Linked DNA regions of Homo sapiens: region 1 is linked to region 2. The links come from fine-mapping of genetic effects on gene expression. Tissue or cell type: sun-exposed skin. Region 2 holds a variant in brackets; the other region holds the start of a gene. All regions are shown on one strand. Distances are from middle to middle.

The links. PIP is the estimated chance that this variant, and not a neighbour inherited with it, causes the effect.
Region 1: it holds the start of SNX29-AS3, and the variant in region 2 is the best candidate, but not a certain one, in a credible set for the expression of SNX29-AS3 in sun-exposed skin (GTEx, PIP 0.74).

The regions. Positions count from the first base shown.
Region 1 is chr16:12,609,541-12,612,455 of GRCh38, forward strand. It overlaps SNX29-AS3 (SNX29 antisense RNA 3), which reads right to left and starts at 1,602. Exons shown (of 4, transcript XR_007064988.1): 1 at 1,198-1,602.
Region 2 is chr16:12,566,150-12,569,064 of GRCh38, forward strand. SNX29 (sorting nexin 29) reads left to right here. Exons shown (of 21, transcript NM_032167.5): 21 at 2,357-2,915. The coding sequence ends at 2,480. It overlaps SNX29-AS3 (SNX29 antisense RNA 3), which reads right to left. Exons shown (of 4, transcript XR_007064988.1): 2 at 2,011-2,150. Among named protein-coding and RNA genes, the nearest start is that of SNX29-AS3, 44 kb to the right of the region's middle. The variant G/A (reference allele first, on the strand shown) is at 1,471.

The sequences.
Region 1 (2,915 bases), 43 kb after region 2:
CATATTCTCACTTATAGGTGGGAGTTGAACAATGAGAACACATGGACACAGGAAGGGGAACATCACACACTGGGGCCTGTTGTGGGGTGGAGGGAGGGGGAGGCATAACATTAGGAGATACACCTAATGTTAAGCAAGTTAATGGGTACAGCACAGCAACATGGCACATGTGTATTTATGTAACAAACCTGCATGTTATGCACATGTACCGTAAAACTTAAAATTATTGCCATTTAATGGATGGGGGAACTGAGGCCCAGATAGATTAAAAGGTTGAAGCTAATCCGTATACAAGTTTGGGTTAAAGTTCTGGCCTGTGGCTCACATGGCTTTTTTATATTTTGTTTGTATTTTTGAGACAGGTTCTTGCTCTGTTACACAGGCTGCAGTGCAACGGCACAATCATAGTACACTCCAGCCCCTACCTCCTGGGCTCAAGCCATCCTCCCTCAGCCTCCCAAGTAGTTGGGATTACAGGCACATATTGCCACACCCCATTAATTTTTGTGTTTTTAGTGGAGACAGGGTTTTGCCTTGTTTCCCAGGATGGTATCAAACTCCTGAGCTGAAGCCATCCTCTTGCCTCGGCCTCCCAAAGTGCAGGTGTTGTGTGAGCTACTGTGCCCAGCTATGCGTGCCTTGTTTATCCACAGAAGTGGTCAGAAAGCTTCCTGGGAGCAGGGCTGTGGGTTAAGGCTCTGACCAACCCACGCACATTCCCCATCTCCAAACACAATGAGCCCGTAGCAATGAACCCTTGTTAGCCGATTTCATCAACTGAATGCACTTTCCTCAGATCTGATTAGACAAACAGGCTAGCCTGAATCCCAGCTGGGGTGGGAAAGAGACACAGGGAAACAAAACACAACCGGCTATAAGCCAGGGGATGGCCAAGTATTTCTGTAAAGGGCCAAATATTTTTAGGTGCAGATCATGAGATTCCCATTGCCAACTATTCAACTGATGCGTGGACAAGGCTGTGTTCCAACTCACCTTTATTTACTAAACAGGTGGGCCAAAGTTTGCTGACCTCTGCACACTATGATCAATCTATTGAAAGCCAGTCATGGGGATGGGGGTACCTGTTAGATCTGAAAAAATGAGATCTGTCTCTGTTCTTTATAAAGTGGGGGAGGAAGGGCGGTATGGTAAGAAAATGAACAAATTCTGTGCTGAAGACTGAATAATGGTATTTACCTTTGATTTCTTGTTTACTGCATGTCAGGTGCCGTACATTATTCGCTGTAAGCCTCAAAAACTCAGGAAGATTTAGCCCCATTCTCCAGATAAATGAAGTGGCTCAGAGATGTTAAGTTGCTGGAGATCACATAGGCAGGATTCTAACACGAAAGCTTATTCTCATTTCGCTATGTTCCACTGGGCCTGATCCAGTCTCAGCCTCAATTCTCCTGTTTGGGTGGTGCTATGTTATCCAGCAAGATGACCCTGCAAAGTCAATGCTGTGTATTCAAGGCACAATAGACAGTCTTCTAGAGGCAGTAGCCTCCACCTAGCACAATATGGTGACAAGGTAGCCCAAGCTGTCTGACCACTTCAGCCCAAATAATTTCACACAAGCATGAAAATTAGAGAAGATGTCATAATGGTGTCAGAGGGATTTGAACCAGAGCAACTCCATCTTGGGTAGGAGCTGGATAAAATGAGGCTGAAACTATTGGGCTGCATTCCCAGACGCTTAAGACACTTAGTCACAGGATGAGATAGCTGTATCTTGTGCCGACCTGTTTGCTGATAAAACAGGTTGCAGTAAAGAAGCCGGCCAAAACCCACCAAAACCAAGATGGTGCTTAAAGTGGCCTCTGACCGTCCTCACTGCTACACTCCCACCACTGCCATGACAGCTTACAAATGCCATGGCAACATCTGGAAGTTACCCTATATGGTCTAAAGAGGGGAGGTATGAATAATCCACCCCTTGTTTAGCATGTCAAGAAATAGCCATAAAAAAAGGCAACCAGCAGCCCTCAGGGCTGCTCTGTCTATTGAGTAGCCATTCTTTATTCCTTGATTTTCTTAATCACCTTGCTTTCACTTTACAGACTTGTGCTTTCTTTCTTTCTTGCAGGAGATCCAAGAACCATCTCTCTCGGGACTGCATCAGGAACCCTTTCATGTAACAATAATGGTAGAAGCACCTGGGATTTGGGAAAATCTTGGAGAGTACTTTGAATTTCTAAAAACCCATGAAAAGGGAGATTTTAAAAATTCACCAAGTGTTACCTAGATCTTTAGGGGTCCAGAGATGCCAACTAGTTTTGGGGCTCCACACCACAATGCAATAAAAAAAATGAGGCTGCTTTGGTCGAAAAGGGAGGTAACAATGTTACAGGCAAGGGGTCCTGATCCAGACCCCCAAGAGAGGCTTCTTGGATCTCGTGCACAAAAGAATTCAGGGGCAAGTCCACAGTGCAAAGCAAAAGTATGTTTATTAAGGAAGTAGCCTAAGTACTGTTAGCCATAGAGTAGGGCATTCCCAAAAGAAAGGGGAATGCATCCACTCTAGGTACAATGCTTGTTTATAGAGAATAAAAAAGATCATGAGGGGCCGGGCATGGTGATTCACGCCTGTAATCCCAGCACTTTGTGAGGCTGAGGTGGGGGGGATCACTTGAGGTCATGCGTTTGAGACTAGCCTACACAACATGGTCAAACAGTCTGTACTAAAAAATACAAAAATTAGCCAGGGGTGGTGGCACGTGCCTGTGCGCCCAGCTACTTGGGAGGCTAAGGCAGGAGAATTGCTTGAACCCGGGAGGTAGAGGTTGCAATGAGCTGAGACTGCACCATTGTACTCCAATCTGGACAACAGAGCAAGACTGCATCAAAAAACAAAACATCTTGATGAGAGACATGCTCTGCTACAAGGATTTGTAATAATTCTTAATTACTACATT
Region 2 (2,915 bases):
GAAACACAGCTAGTTGGTGGCTTTAGGTAGCCCTTGAATCCTTACCACCACAGTACTAGGATATGCTTATGGTTGTCATCCCCAAATGACAGACAAGGAAACCAAGGGTCAGACAGCACTGCCCACAGCAGGACTGGACAGAGACACGTGCCTCCAAGCTATGTCCTCTCCCTACCCCTTCATAACAGTCACCCCACCGACTGCTACCTCTCCTCTCCCAACCAACAAGGCACTGGCCTCTCCCAGGCACTCTCAGAGCCTGTTACCTCCAGGGCCTCTCCCCCCAAGCTCTGGTCATTGCAGGGCAGGGCTCATCCTGGCTGTGCTGAATGATGATGGTGGTTGCAGGCTAAGTGGCTGCTCAGACCCCGCATCTGAAGAGCATGACAGGAGGGGGTTGTGAGGGCATGGCTTTAAACTGACTTTTACATCCAAGCCTTCCTGTATCTAAGAATCAGTTCCCCTACACTGCAAGCAAAGACCTCCTTCCAGCATCTTTGAACCATCCTCTAAGGAGCATTCAGGGATAAAGAGGCTCTTCGTAAGTGGGGTCCCCCATCCTTTGAAGAGAGGATCATGTTTGCTTTGGGCCTGCAGCCAGACACCCACCTAAAGGAGGAAAGCACAGCACACGCCAGGCTGGTTGGGCTCAGAGATGATTCAGAGCAGCTCCGGCTTTGTTCAAGGTCAAATGTTTCTTTTTCATCCATGCACAGAAGGCAAAGCAACAACTTGACTTACAGGAAAAGACAATCATTAAAAGGGGTCTTCATTTTGTTAGCTTATCAGGGTGTCAAACTTGAAACGAGGGATCTCACTCGCACAGTGGCCATGTCCCTGGAAAGGTGCAACGCAAAGTAGATCATTGTGAAGAGATTCACTCCTGAGATACATGAAGATGCTAGGCTGTTTCAGGGAACCCTGCAGGGATCCTCGAGGGGAATGATTTCTTTATGAATGCAAGTCTCTTAACTCACATGATTTGTGAAACTGGGCTTGGATACAGCTGGGGGTGGATGTTCCTGATCTGACATTCTCACTTGGCATCTTTGGTCCTTTCTAAACCACAGATAAGGCAGAGCTAGCTGTGGACACAGTCCTGTCTTCCCTTGTAGGGTCCAGTGGATCCAGGACTTACATCCAGCAAGCCACAGCAGCACAGAGGTGCTGCGGACGCAGGAGTGGACATGGATCCTGTTAGGTTTTTGCCTTGTTTTAAAACATTTTATCCCAGTGAGGTATTTACTTCCTATTCAAATAGCGTATAGTAGGCAGAGTAAGAACATTCCTAGCCCCAGAATTTATGTGTCCCCTTATCTAGCAAAAGGGACTTTACAGATGTGATTAAGGATTGGCCAGGCACAGTGGCTCACACCTGTAATCCCAGCACTTTAGGAGGCTGAGCAAGAGGATCACTTGAGACCAGCCTGGACAAGAGCAAGACCCCATCTCTACAAAAAATTACACTCA[G/A]GTATGGTGGCTAGTACCTATAGTCCCAGCTGCTCAGGAGGCTGAGGTGAGAGGATCACTTGAGCCCAGGAGATCGAGGCTGCAGCAAGTTATCATTACACGATTGCACTGTAAAACCTGGGCAAGAGTCGAGACTGTCTCCAGAAAATACAATTTTGAAAAAATGCAACCACATCACAGGACTTCCTGCTGAGCACCCTCTGCTCTCACGGTGAAGCCTCCCAGCCTCTACCCTATCCCCTAAAAAATGTGCCGAGGGCCTCCCACACAACCCAGACCCATGCCCTGGGACCCACACACGCTGTGTGTTCGCGTTGCTTCAGAACCAGGATCAGTGTCCCCCTCTTGGTGTTATCTTCCACTGTTCCTGGCTCTTAAACACAATACCATGCCAAACAACCTTTTAACTAGCCCCTAGCCTAGGGCCTGATTATTTTCTTAGGATTAATTCCACAGGAAGTCCGTCTCCTGTGTTTTGCTACGCATCTTGTGTGGCTTTATGTAGTGTTCTCCAAAGTTGCCTTGGACTTAGAAGCGTACCTTTGCTGGAAAATCAAGGAAAATGTGGGGAAGAAAGCTGTGCCTAGAACATTCTTTCATAGCCTTAAAATGTAGACCGGAACGGTGGTACCATGAGCTAGCTCAGACTCACAGCCAAGCTTGGTTGGAGCCTCGGAGTGCTGTTAAAAAAAAAAAAATGGAAAGGTTTACGTGACAATAGGGGTTTCTCATTTCTTCAGGTGGCACCAGTTAGAGGCAGATCCAATGAGCCAGTCACAGTTGCCAATCAGATCCCTCCTGCCCTCACACCTGGCTCCCCTTCCTGGCCTGTGGTCATTTGCTTTTCATCCCCAGACTTAACCCGATTCTCTCCCTGCTCTTTCAGCGACATCACCCCGCCCGGAGAGCCTGTGAACAGCCGGCCCAAAGCAGCTTCCCGCTTCCCCAAACTGTCCCGGGGTCAGCCCCGGGAGACCCGCAACGTGGAGCCCCAGAGCGGTGACCTCTGACCTCGACAAAACCGCAGCCACGGGCCCTGTGCGTGGCACCAGCTGCGTCCACCCCAGCCACTGCCGCTGGCCCCTCACCTCAGCGTGACAACCACGTCCACCTGGTGATCCTGAGAGCACACGATTCCCAACAGTTACACAACACCCCGATTAAACTAATCAGTCTTCGAGCCGCATGATACCGTGACCCGAGAGACCAAGGCAGCACCTCGCTGGAGAGACTGGGACACACAGTCCTTCTGCTTCTGGGGTCTACCCTGGGCTGCAAGGGCTGTTCCTCCACCTTTCTGTAGTTCAGGGCTGGCAGGAGGGTGGGCACCAGGTCAGGCTGGGTGCGCCATGGTTGAGAGGCAAAGGTGATCCCCTATATAGGAAGGTTCATGCAGAGCCAGCCTCTCCACTCTTTCCCACGTGGGGACTAGAATGACTATTAGC